Regions from separate parts of the Homo sapiens genome. Here region 1 is linked to region 2. A link means that fine-mapping ties the variant in region 2 to the expression of a gene that starts in the linked region. Tissue or cell type: whole blood. Region 2 holds a variant in brackets; the other region holds the start of a gene. All regions are shown on one strand. Distances are between the middles of the regions.

What was found. PIP is the estimated chance that this variant, and not a neighbour inherited with it, causes the effect.
Region 1: RNF170 starts here. The variant in region 2 is fine-mapped to the expression of RNF170 in whole blood (TOPMed, PIP above 0.99).

What each region holds. Positions count from the first base shown.
Region 1 is chr8:42,893,906-42,898,905 of GRCh38, reverse strand. It overlaps RNF170 (ring finger protein 170), which reads left to right and starts at 2,301. Exons shown (of 7, transcript NM_030954.4): 1 at 2,301-2,422. HOOK3 (hook microtubule tethering protein 3) reads right to left here and starts at 1,928. Exons shown (of 22, transcript NM_032410.4): 1 at 1,718-1,928. The coding sequence starts at 1,774. MIR4469 (microRNA 4469) reads left to right here and starts at 2,631; the gene lies at 2,631-2,709. RefSeq lists silencers at 1,310-1,369, 1,380-2,169, 2,350-2,709, 2,505-2,716 and an enhancer at 2,623-3,184.
Region 2 is chr8:42,965,419-42,970,418 of GRCh38, reverse strand. It overlaps HOOK3 (hook microtubule tethering protein 3), which reads right to left. Exons shown (of 22, transcript NM_032410.4): 10 at 3,806-3,946; 11 at 2,205-2,406. Among named protein-coding and RNA genes, the nearest start is that of HOOK3, 71 kb to the right of the region's middle. The variant C/A (reference allele first, on the strand shown) is at 2,082.

The DNA of each region.
Region 1 (5,000 bases), 72 kb after region 2:
TTTGCCCAATTGTAGGCTAAGGTAAGTGTTCTGAGCACGTTTAAGGTAGACCAAGCTAAGCTACCGTTTGGACGGTTAGGCGTATGAAATGCATTTTCAACTTACGGTATTTTCAACTTATGATGGGTTTACCGGGATGTAACCCCATCGCAAGTTAAGGAGCCTCTGTACACCTCTTTATTTCCATGTCTTCTTTCTCCCTAGATTTTAAACAATGTAGCCCTACTTAGATTCAATTAGCTTCATCTTTGCCTTCTGGCTGCTTCTTCTAGCATAAAGGGAAGCACTACTTGCACAGTCTCAAAAACTTAAATCTTAAGTTCCTCAGCATTCTGTTTACAGATGTACAGATTCTGCCAAATCTATTCCTTCCACAACATCAAAGAATTTAGTAATTCTTTCCTCTCTCTCTCTCCCCTGCCTAGTCAGAAACCTCAGCCACATTATACAACTTACCAGTCTTCCTCTTTTCTGAAATACAGCAGTGAAAGCCATCTCCTTGCCTGGAGGGAGAACTCATCAGAAGGGTAAGCTGCACGCTAACTACATACTACTGCTAACGATCTGAAATCCCCTAAATGGTCTGATATGCAACTGGCTACTCAAGCTCTACCAAGTCTGTTTCAGAGGACAGAAATTGATTCGTGACGTAGCCAAACTATAAAAACCTCAGACTATTTTTATTAATTTTTTTAACAACCAACGTAAGGCAATACTTCTCCAGCCTTTCCAGCAAAGTGCCTTGCACAGGATCGTGACGTCTACACTCCAGGGATCCTGACTCGTAACCCAAGACACCGCTAAAGAGAATTTCTCTCACATTCGTGTTTTACCTTTAAAAGTAATACAAATGCTGTAGTAGCCTTCATAAACACATCCGTAAACATTTAATTAACATTCTCAGCAATGAGTGAAACGGAGGCTCCCGAAGGCAGCGCGGGGTCCGCCCGGGCTCTGCGCATCCCTCCCCCTCCCCGGCCGCGCCGCGGCGAGAACGACTGGAACCCGGGCGTCGGTTCCCCTGCCGCGTCCTGAAGACCCGGCTTCAGGAAGGCGCGGCAGCTGACGTGAGAGGTGAACATGTATTTACTTCAAAGTATGAGGAATCTAAAACCGTTTAAGAATTCAAAATCAGAATCCCACGACTCTGTCCCCCAAGGCCTTCGAGTTCCATTGTTGACGCCCAGACACCTCCAGACTCCTTTAAACGTCTGCCCGACGCCTCTGACAGGCGTCCGCCCCTCGCGCACTCCCACCGCCAGCGGTGCCTTGCATCCGAAACGGGGTCCCCGGGCGCCTCCCGCATTCTCCCCACGCTCCCTCACAGGTCCTTTCAGTTCCCGGGCCGGAGCCGGGCCCGTCCTCCGCGAACGCGGCAACAAAGGCGAGGAGCGGCGGCGGGTCCTGGACGCGGGGCAGTCAGGCTCGGCCACCCCCAGAGCGCAGCGCAGCCCCAGCTGCGAGCAGCCGCACGGATCCCAGAGTCGCCCGCCGCGTTCCCAGCCCAGCCCCGGCCGGGGTCCGCCCGGAACAGCGACGCCTCAGGCCCGGCAAGTCTCTCTCGGACCCTGGGCCGAGCCTCCTCGCCCCGCCCGCCCCAGGCCCCGGATGTGACGGCACCGTCGCCCGCAGCGCTCGCCCCACGGGCCGCGCGTGGAGGGTCCCGGTAGGTGGCGGGGGGAGGGGGTCTTCCCGCCGGCCCGCGGCCCCCACGTACCCAAGTGAGGAGGCTCTCGCACAGCTCCGCCCGCTCCAGCGACTCTACGCTGAACATCTTCCCCGCCGCGGCCAGGCAGCGCCTACCGCCTGGCCAGACACCGCCGCCGCTCTGTCGGGGGATCCGGGGGCCCGCGCAGCTGACTCGGCCTCAGGCCCGCCTGCTCCTCGGATCCGGCCGCCGACTCTCGCCCAGCGCTGGCAGCGGCTCCGCACCGTCACCCCCAGCGCCCCTCCTTCTCCTTTCACTCGGGACCGCGCGCCAGCCGCGCGCGACTTCGGACACGCCCGCCGCCCCGCGTCCCCGCCCCCGGCCGCCCACACCGCTCCTCCCCAGCGCCGCCGCCCTGGCTGGAGCCGAGGCCGAGGAGCCACTGCGCACGCTCGCGCCCCGGCCGACCCGCGCCGCCGCGCCGCCGCCGCCGCCGCCGCCGCCGCCGCTGCCGCCGGGCGCGCCCCCGCCACCAGTTCGCTGCGTGTCGAGGCGAGCACGCGCTCCGCCCTGGAGGCTGCGGCGACGGGTCCTCCTCCGCCGTCCGGTCGCGCCCTCGCGGAAGCTCGGCAGTGCGCGTGCGCCCGCACCCGCACTCCAAATTAGAAAGGGGACGTCTAGTGGGTTGCCCGGGAGGGGTGGCGGGAGCGGTCCTGGAAATAATCTGTCCTCTGTCGCCGGGAACTGGCGAGGTAGTTCCTTCGCGGTGGAGAGGTACGTCCGGCGCGCGGCGGCCACGCCCACCCTATCGGGGCCCGCGGAGCCGCGGACGGCGGGGTCTGGCCTTCTTGGGGTAGCTCTGGCCGCCGAGGCTCTGCGGGGCGGCGGGAGTCGCCGCCTCCTTCCCCCCGGGCCCCTCCCTCGTCTGGAAGCCCCAGAATCGCCCCGCGGCTGTCCGGAGTCGCCGGCGACGGTGGAGGGGCCGACGCGGAGAGCGGCTCTAGGTGGGTTTGGCGGCGGCGAGGACACCGCCGCTCCCTCTAGGGTCGCTCGGAGCGTGACCCTGAGAACTCTCCTTAATGCAGGAGGGGTGTGCGCCCGCTCGCCAATCCGTAAGGACACCGGCCGACCCCGGGCCTGCGTTTCTCAGCGTTCGGAGTTGCCTTCGCTTAATGGCGAGGCGGATCGTTCTGGAGCTTCCACCTCTTTAGAGGCACGAATCTGTCTGCTGGGCTGCCGATAAATTTTTAACAGATATAGCATACGCAGAAAAGTGCATACGACATACACGTTTAAAGAAGAATTAATAAAACACCCAGATAAAAACGAAAAGGGCATTACCGGCACCCCAGGAGTTTCTCACCCATGCCCTGTGCTCCTTTCGGAGCCTGATTGTCTCCTAGCCTGACTAGTGTGATCATTTCCTTACAGCTTTACCATCTATGTGTGCATGCGATGTCGTTTTCCTTTGCCTGTTTTTGAACTTTTGCGGGTGGATCACAGTGTGTTGTTTTGTGGTTTTCAATCAGTATTAAATTGGTGTACTGTGTATGTATAGGTAATTTTAATTGTTGCCTAGTATTCCAGTGTGAATAGAACAGTGAATCCATTCTACTCTGGTTGGGCATTTTGTTCAGACTGAGGCCACTCAGAACATGGCTATAAACATTCTAGTGTACCTGGAACGTAGTGCAAATATGTTGGAATTTCCAGGACATGCACTTTGGAGTCCTTAGAGAATTGTCGATGCGTAGAGTATGCATAACTACCACCCAATGCCAAATTTTTATTTGGAGTGCAACAAAGCTAACTTCCCAAGACACACTTTGCTTTGTAGTTCCTGGAACCCCTTTCCCCCACTTTTTTTCCATTAAGAGTAGGTTTTCTCATTGAGCACTGAAAACTGCCAAGACAGCATTGAGTGGGGTTTTTTGTTGTTGTTGATGGTGGTTTTTGAGAAAGGGTCTCGTTCTGGAGTGCAGTGGCGCAATCTTGGTTCACTGCAACCTCTGCCTCCTGGGCTCAAGTGATCCTCCTACCTCAGCCTCCCAAGTAGCTGGAACCACAGGTGCAGGCCACGATGCTCAGCTAATTTTCTTATTTTTTGTAGAGAGGGGGTCTCGCTATGTTGCCCAGGCTGGTCTCAAATTCCTGGGCTCAAGTGATCCGCCCGCCTTAGCCTCCCAAAAGTGCTGGGATCAAAAGTGTGAGCCACCGAGCCTGGGTCAGCAGTGAGTTTTTAAGGTTGCCTTACAGAGTACCACTTGATAGTTGACCCCTGATCATTTAGCATTTTGTAAGTGTAAAAAAAAAAAAACTTACCTGAAGTATTCTCAATGGTCTTTTTTTCAAACATTCTTCCCTACACCAAGGGCAGAGAAACCTTTAGAAATTACACATACGTGGCCAGGCGCGGTGTCTCGCGCCTGTAATCCCAGCACTTTGGGAGGCCGAGGCGAGCGGATCACGATGTCAAGAGATCCTGGCCAACATGGTGAAACCCCGTCTCTACTAAAAATACAAAAATTAGCCGGGCGTGGTGGCGGGCTCCTGTAGTCCCAGCTACTCGGGAGGCTGAGGCAGGAGAATCGCTTGAACGCGGGAGGCTGAGGTTGCAGTGAGCCGAGATCGCGCCACTGCACTCCATCCTGACGACAGAACGAGAATCTGTCTCAAAAGAAAAAAAAAATTACACATGTGTGTCTCGCCTGTGTTTGGTTCCTGTGTTGGTGCCTCTGGATATTTGTCAAACTAGAGTTCCTACATTCCTTATCAGGTTATTTCTGTCGAATCTCTAGCACTTTTAAGTGACGTATAATCTTGTAGGCAAGTGAATGAAGTCAGTGAGTATATGTCACATTGACTTACTCCTGACTCACATGCAGCTTGTCTTTAGATGGGCAGATAAGATGCTGGCCCTACTGGAGCGACTGTGGTTGTGCCGTCCTGAGCACCCTTCCTCCAGTGGCCCCGGTTTTCAAGGCTTTGACACAATGGACCTAAAGTCTCCTTTTTCAAGCTTGGCTGCATATCCACAGTGCTTTTGTGCATGATGTTACGTTGTTCTGGAGGTTTCATTTTGTAATTCCAGTTACCTTTGATGAAAGAAATTAGTAAAAACTTTTTGGATGTGAGTAATTGCAGAAGCCATGTGGCTGCTGAGTTTCTACGTAAGCCTTGGGGTAAAAAGACACTGAGATTCTCTCCTTTGTTCCAGGAAGTCCCGGAATTTCCTATTTTTCTATTTTCTCTGTGTGTTTTATTTTTTTTCCTTCCCTGAAAGCTTTGGAAATGCCTGAGGAGAGGTGAGTTGAACTTGTCTTAGCTGTCTGGTTACTCCGGTTAGTTGGAG
Region 2 (5,000 bases):
AAGGGAAAGCAAAGGGCTGAGAACAGACACTTTTGAAAAAGGACAAAGTATGAGAGTCTGCACTACCACCTATCAAAATTGCTAAAAATTTGTAAAACATGAGTGTGATATTGGTGTAGGAAGAGATAAATATACCAAGGGAACAGAAGAAAGTGTCCAGAAATAAACCCATATACAACATGGATATTTTAGATATACAAGGTAGAATTGCAGGTCATTGTGGAAGAAAGGACTATTAAATAAATGGTGGTAGGCTGACTGGTTATCCACACAGACAAAAAGAGTCTCAAAGGGATCCCTACTTCACACCCTACACAAAAATTAATTCCAAGTGGATTAAATACCTAAATGTGCAAAACAAACTTTAAATCTTTGTAAAGAAAATAGAGAAGATTAGACTATAACCTTATATAGGAAATAATTTCTTAAAATATAAAAAGTACAAATCATAAAAGTACTTTAAGTTCATTATGCTGAAATTATCAACCTCAAAAAAGTAAAAGGACAAGTCATAGATCCATAGGAGATTAAGTAAAAATATGTGCAAGTGATAAAGAACATCTAGAACATATAAACAACCTTTAGAAATCAGTAAAAGAAATGATTCAATTTTTTAAGTGGGTAAAAGATAAAAATAGGAAATTTACAAAAGAAATATGGTCAGTAAATATATTTGTAATCAGGGTAACATGAAGTATAATTAAAAGGAGACACCATTTTATACCCATCTAATTGGCAAATTTTACTTATTTTTCTTTTCTCAAGACAAGGTCTTACATGTCTCATGTTGCCAGCAGAGTCACATGCGGCACAAAAGCAAAGCTGGAATGCAGTGGTGCAATCATAGCTCACTGTAGCCTCTGAGGCCCAGGCTCAAGCGATTCTTCAACCTCATCCTCCCAAATAGCTGGGACCACAGGTTCATGCCACCATGCCCAGCTAACTTAAAGTTATTTTTAGAGATGGGGTCTTGCTATGTTTCCCAGGTTGGTTTGGAACTCCTGGGCTCAAGCCACTCTCCTGCCTCAGCCTCCCAAAGTGTTGAGATTACAGGCGTGAGACACTGTGCCAGGCCAGCAAAATTTAGTTTGCCAATACTGTGTGCTGGTGATGATGTGAAGCAACAGGAATATAAACTGCTTGTTGGTAGCACAATCACTTTAAGGAACAATCTGCTAATATCTAACTACATTGAAGATACTCTTAGACAGAAAGTCCATCAAGTTGTAAAACCTTCACACATATATAGTAGAGGACCTGTACAATACTATTTATATGGCATTTCTTTTAACATAGAAAAAAAAGCTGAAACATCCTGTAGGTCTCTTAACAGGAAAATAGATAAATTTTGGTACAGAGACTAACTGAGAGAGCAGCAGAAATGAATGTTATAAAGCTATACCTATCATGATAAACAAGTCTCACTGAGCAAAAGAAAAAAAAATTACAAAGAGTGCTTTCACTGTATCATTTATATAAAGTTCTGGAACATGTCAAAGTGCTATAAATTTTTAGGGATAAATATATATATGTAGCAAAAGTATAGAGAGACGAATGGGAATGAAAGCCGCAGCATGGAGGCTGCCTGTAACGAGGAGGGGGAGAGCATGTTTTATTCAAGCATGAATATTTACTGAACTATGCTTTTACATTTGTATATTTCTTAAGTATTACCTAATAAATAACTAACTAAATAAAAATAAGTAAATAAAATAAAAGTACCTGCTATGGAGAGTTTAAAGCTCTTTAAATATTAGATAAATATAAATAAATACAATAGGCCAGGCATGGTGGCTCACAGTGGCTCACGCTTGTAATCCTAGCACTTTGGAAGGCTGAGGCTGGTGGATCACTTGAGCTCAGGAGTACAAGACCAGCCTGGGCAACACAGTGAAACCCTGTCTTTACCAAAATACAAAAAATTAGCCAGGTGTGGCAGCATGCGTCTGTAGTTCCAGCTACTCAGGAGGCTGGGGCAGAAGAATAGCTTGAACCTGGGAGGTGGAGGTTGCAGTGAGCTGAGATCATGCCACTGCACTCCAGGCTGGGTGACAGAGTGAGACTCAGTCTCCTAAATGAAT[C/A]AATACAATAAAGAAAAGGTAAAAAACAGAATACCATGAAAACAAATTAGTAATTTTGGTAAGCTACATGTCATAACTGAGAGCTTGCCTGAAACCATCATCAAGATGCTGTGTTTCTTTTACCTGTCTCTTGTAGGTTTCAAGTTGACTTCGCGCTGCGTTGGCCTTTCTTAACTCTTCCTCTAGACTGACAGTATTCTGCATATACATGGTATTCTTCTCTTCTAAGAGTTTAACCTGCCGCCTTAAATCACCAAGGTCTTCTAGCTTCTTTTTATAAGATTCTACTTGACCTTCTAGTTTAGATACTTTATCAGAAGAATGTCTAGAATTAGATGGGAAATTAAAAAAATCAGAAACACATCCACACTTGTAAAGTTGTTTCAGTGTTAAGAAGGATTGCCAGGAAACACACATCTAATGAAATAAGACAAAAGTGATTCCAGGTTAATTTTCTGCACAGGTTAACAAATATGACCTAAGTTACAACTAAATGTTTAATGGAGAATAATAATTTAAGGAAACCAAGCAGGAGAGGGCAGCCAGCAGAGTCACATGTGGCACAAAAGAAAAGTAAGTTTAACAGTGTCCGAATAATTTGGCAATTATCAGTGACCACCAGAATAGCAGCTTCAGTGGGGTAGTGTGGGCAGATAGTGGGGTTGAGGAGAGAATGTCAATTTTACCTTATGTAATCTAAGTTTGGTTCTAGTGGGAAGGAGAGAGTAATAACTCCCTCTCTTTTTAAGATTAAAGAGACCTAAATGCGCGTGTGCATGTGTATGAAGGAGAGAGATTCAAAAGGCAAAAGAAATGAGGATTGATGTAACACAGTCCCCGCGTAGGCCAGAAAGGTAGAGGTCCAGAACACTGAAGAAGGAATTAGCCCTGAACAGGAGGAAGAATAACAGGTCTACACTCACTAAAGAAAGGGTGGGTGGGAACCCAGGGAAGTTTAGAGGTTTTGGAGACAAAAGACATGGAGAGTTCAGCAGTTCACGGCCTCTTTCTTCGCTGCTATAGGAGACAAGGTCATCTATTGAGACTAAGTCATGGGAGGTGTGTGTGGAGGGCAGCCGGGGAGTAGAATCCTGAGGAATCAGAATGGCTATGAGTGAGACAATGAGCAAGGGGAGGGCGGGCCATTGGGAAGAACCCAGCTCAGAAGGAAGCCACCAATTGGCAGGAGCACAAAACTATCAATTATGCATTTCCCCTGTTCTCAGTATTCAAAGAGCAAAAGTGGAAAATGTAGATGGTTGAGATAATCAACAGAGGATAGGAGACTGTACAAGCAGAGGGGTGAAAAAATGAGGTGACAGGGAGTGAGGCACCTCATGAGAGAACTGAAGGGGTAATAACAAGGCCCAGCAAGAAAATGAGGCCTTGCGGGCGTGGCGGAAGAACAGCTCCAGAGCTGTACAAGTAAGAAGTGATGGTCACAATTTCTATTTTACAAACACTTGTGTATCGCTTAATTGCCAGACACTGTTGCAAGTGTTTACAAATATAAATTCACTCAACTCCTCATATAAACCTGAGGTAGGCATGTGTATTGTTTCCATTTTGCAGATGAGAAAACAGCCATACAGAGGTTGCATAAGCAGTAGACCCGGGATCCCAGCCCAGGTAGCCTGGCTCTTAAGTTTGCTAGATCCTCAGAAACCCTAGAGTTTCTAACACCAGAGCCAAACTGTGCTGGGCGGTGAAGGTGAGGTTTTTACCTCAGCACGTCGATCTCATCTTTCAGAGACTGAGCTTCATCTGCCAAAGTGGTCAGTTCATCATTCTGTTGCCGAAGTTCAGAGATCTCCTTTTCTAACTCTTCACAACGTATTCGATAATCATCTTTGGCTGCTTCTAGTCTGTAACCGATATAAAATAGACCAAGAAAGCACTATTTACTGCCTCCTCATTCTCCTTAGAACAGTAAAAGAAAGATATAAAGCATGAGAATAAAGCCTTCTTGAGTATGTCTCCCATGTTAGTGGCCACAAGCTGCATTCTCAAGCACTAACTGTCATAAAAATGAACTCCACTGTCCCAAGTCTTGGGAACGGTGACAACTGGTTACTATTTCCCTACCAGAAAGCAAGACATCATGCAACATTTTTCTGAAATATTGCAGATACAATTTAAGGGCTTTTTTTATTATAAAATTAACACATATGGTCTGGCACAGTGGATTACAGTAATAAACCCATTATGTTAATAAAAACAACATACTCTTTATGAAAAATAACTATTTTCTAAAACAAAAAAAGTGAGAAGAGTGGCACTGTTTTATATTTTTGTGATTCTATTATCTGTTTTAATAGAAGACAGCTGGGTTCTCATATTTGTTTCTACATTCATCTGTTGGTGACATGTTGTTTTTTGGCTGAAGCATATGAAGAAAATCCAGCCTTGCAGACACATAGTCGGGAAAGAGAGGGTCTTGCAGATTCTCCAAAATGGTTATCAGAGGACCTCCAGGAGCCTCGACCATTCTTTGAACTGCTGACGTGGACCAAAGGGAATGGACTGTTTCTAAGGTTTCTAAGGAGCCTAAGAAAAGTTTATTACTTTTTCCTGTTAAGGTAAAAGAAAAAAAAAAATCCAGAAACATTTCACTGAGGAATAACAAGAATAGTTATGTTACCACACTCAGTTACTCAGTAAAGTAAAAATCTAATTGATGTTTAATTTCTGTTTTAACACTAGAAATCTATGGCTAGGGAAGAAACAAGTGATGACGCACTTTTTAGTAAACCGTAACAAAATATTTTCATCATACTCTTGTCTTTCGATTTTGTGCTTCCGTCTTATCTTGCAGGACATATTTTCCTTTTTCTTCTTTTTCCTTTCACCACCCAAAGGTCAAAGGGCCCTTCTTCCTTCCTTTTGGGCTTTTCTTCCCACAGAAGATGTCTGGAAGAT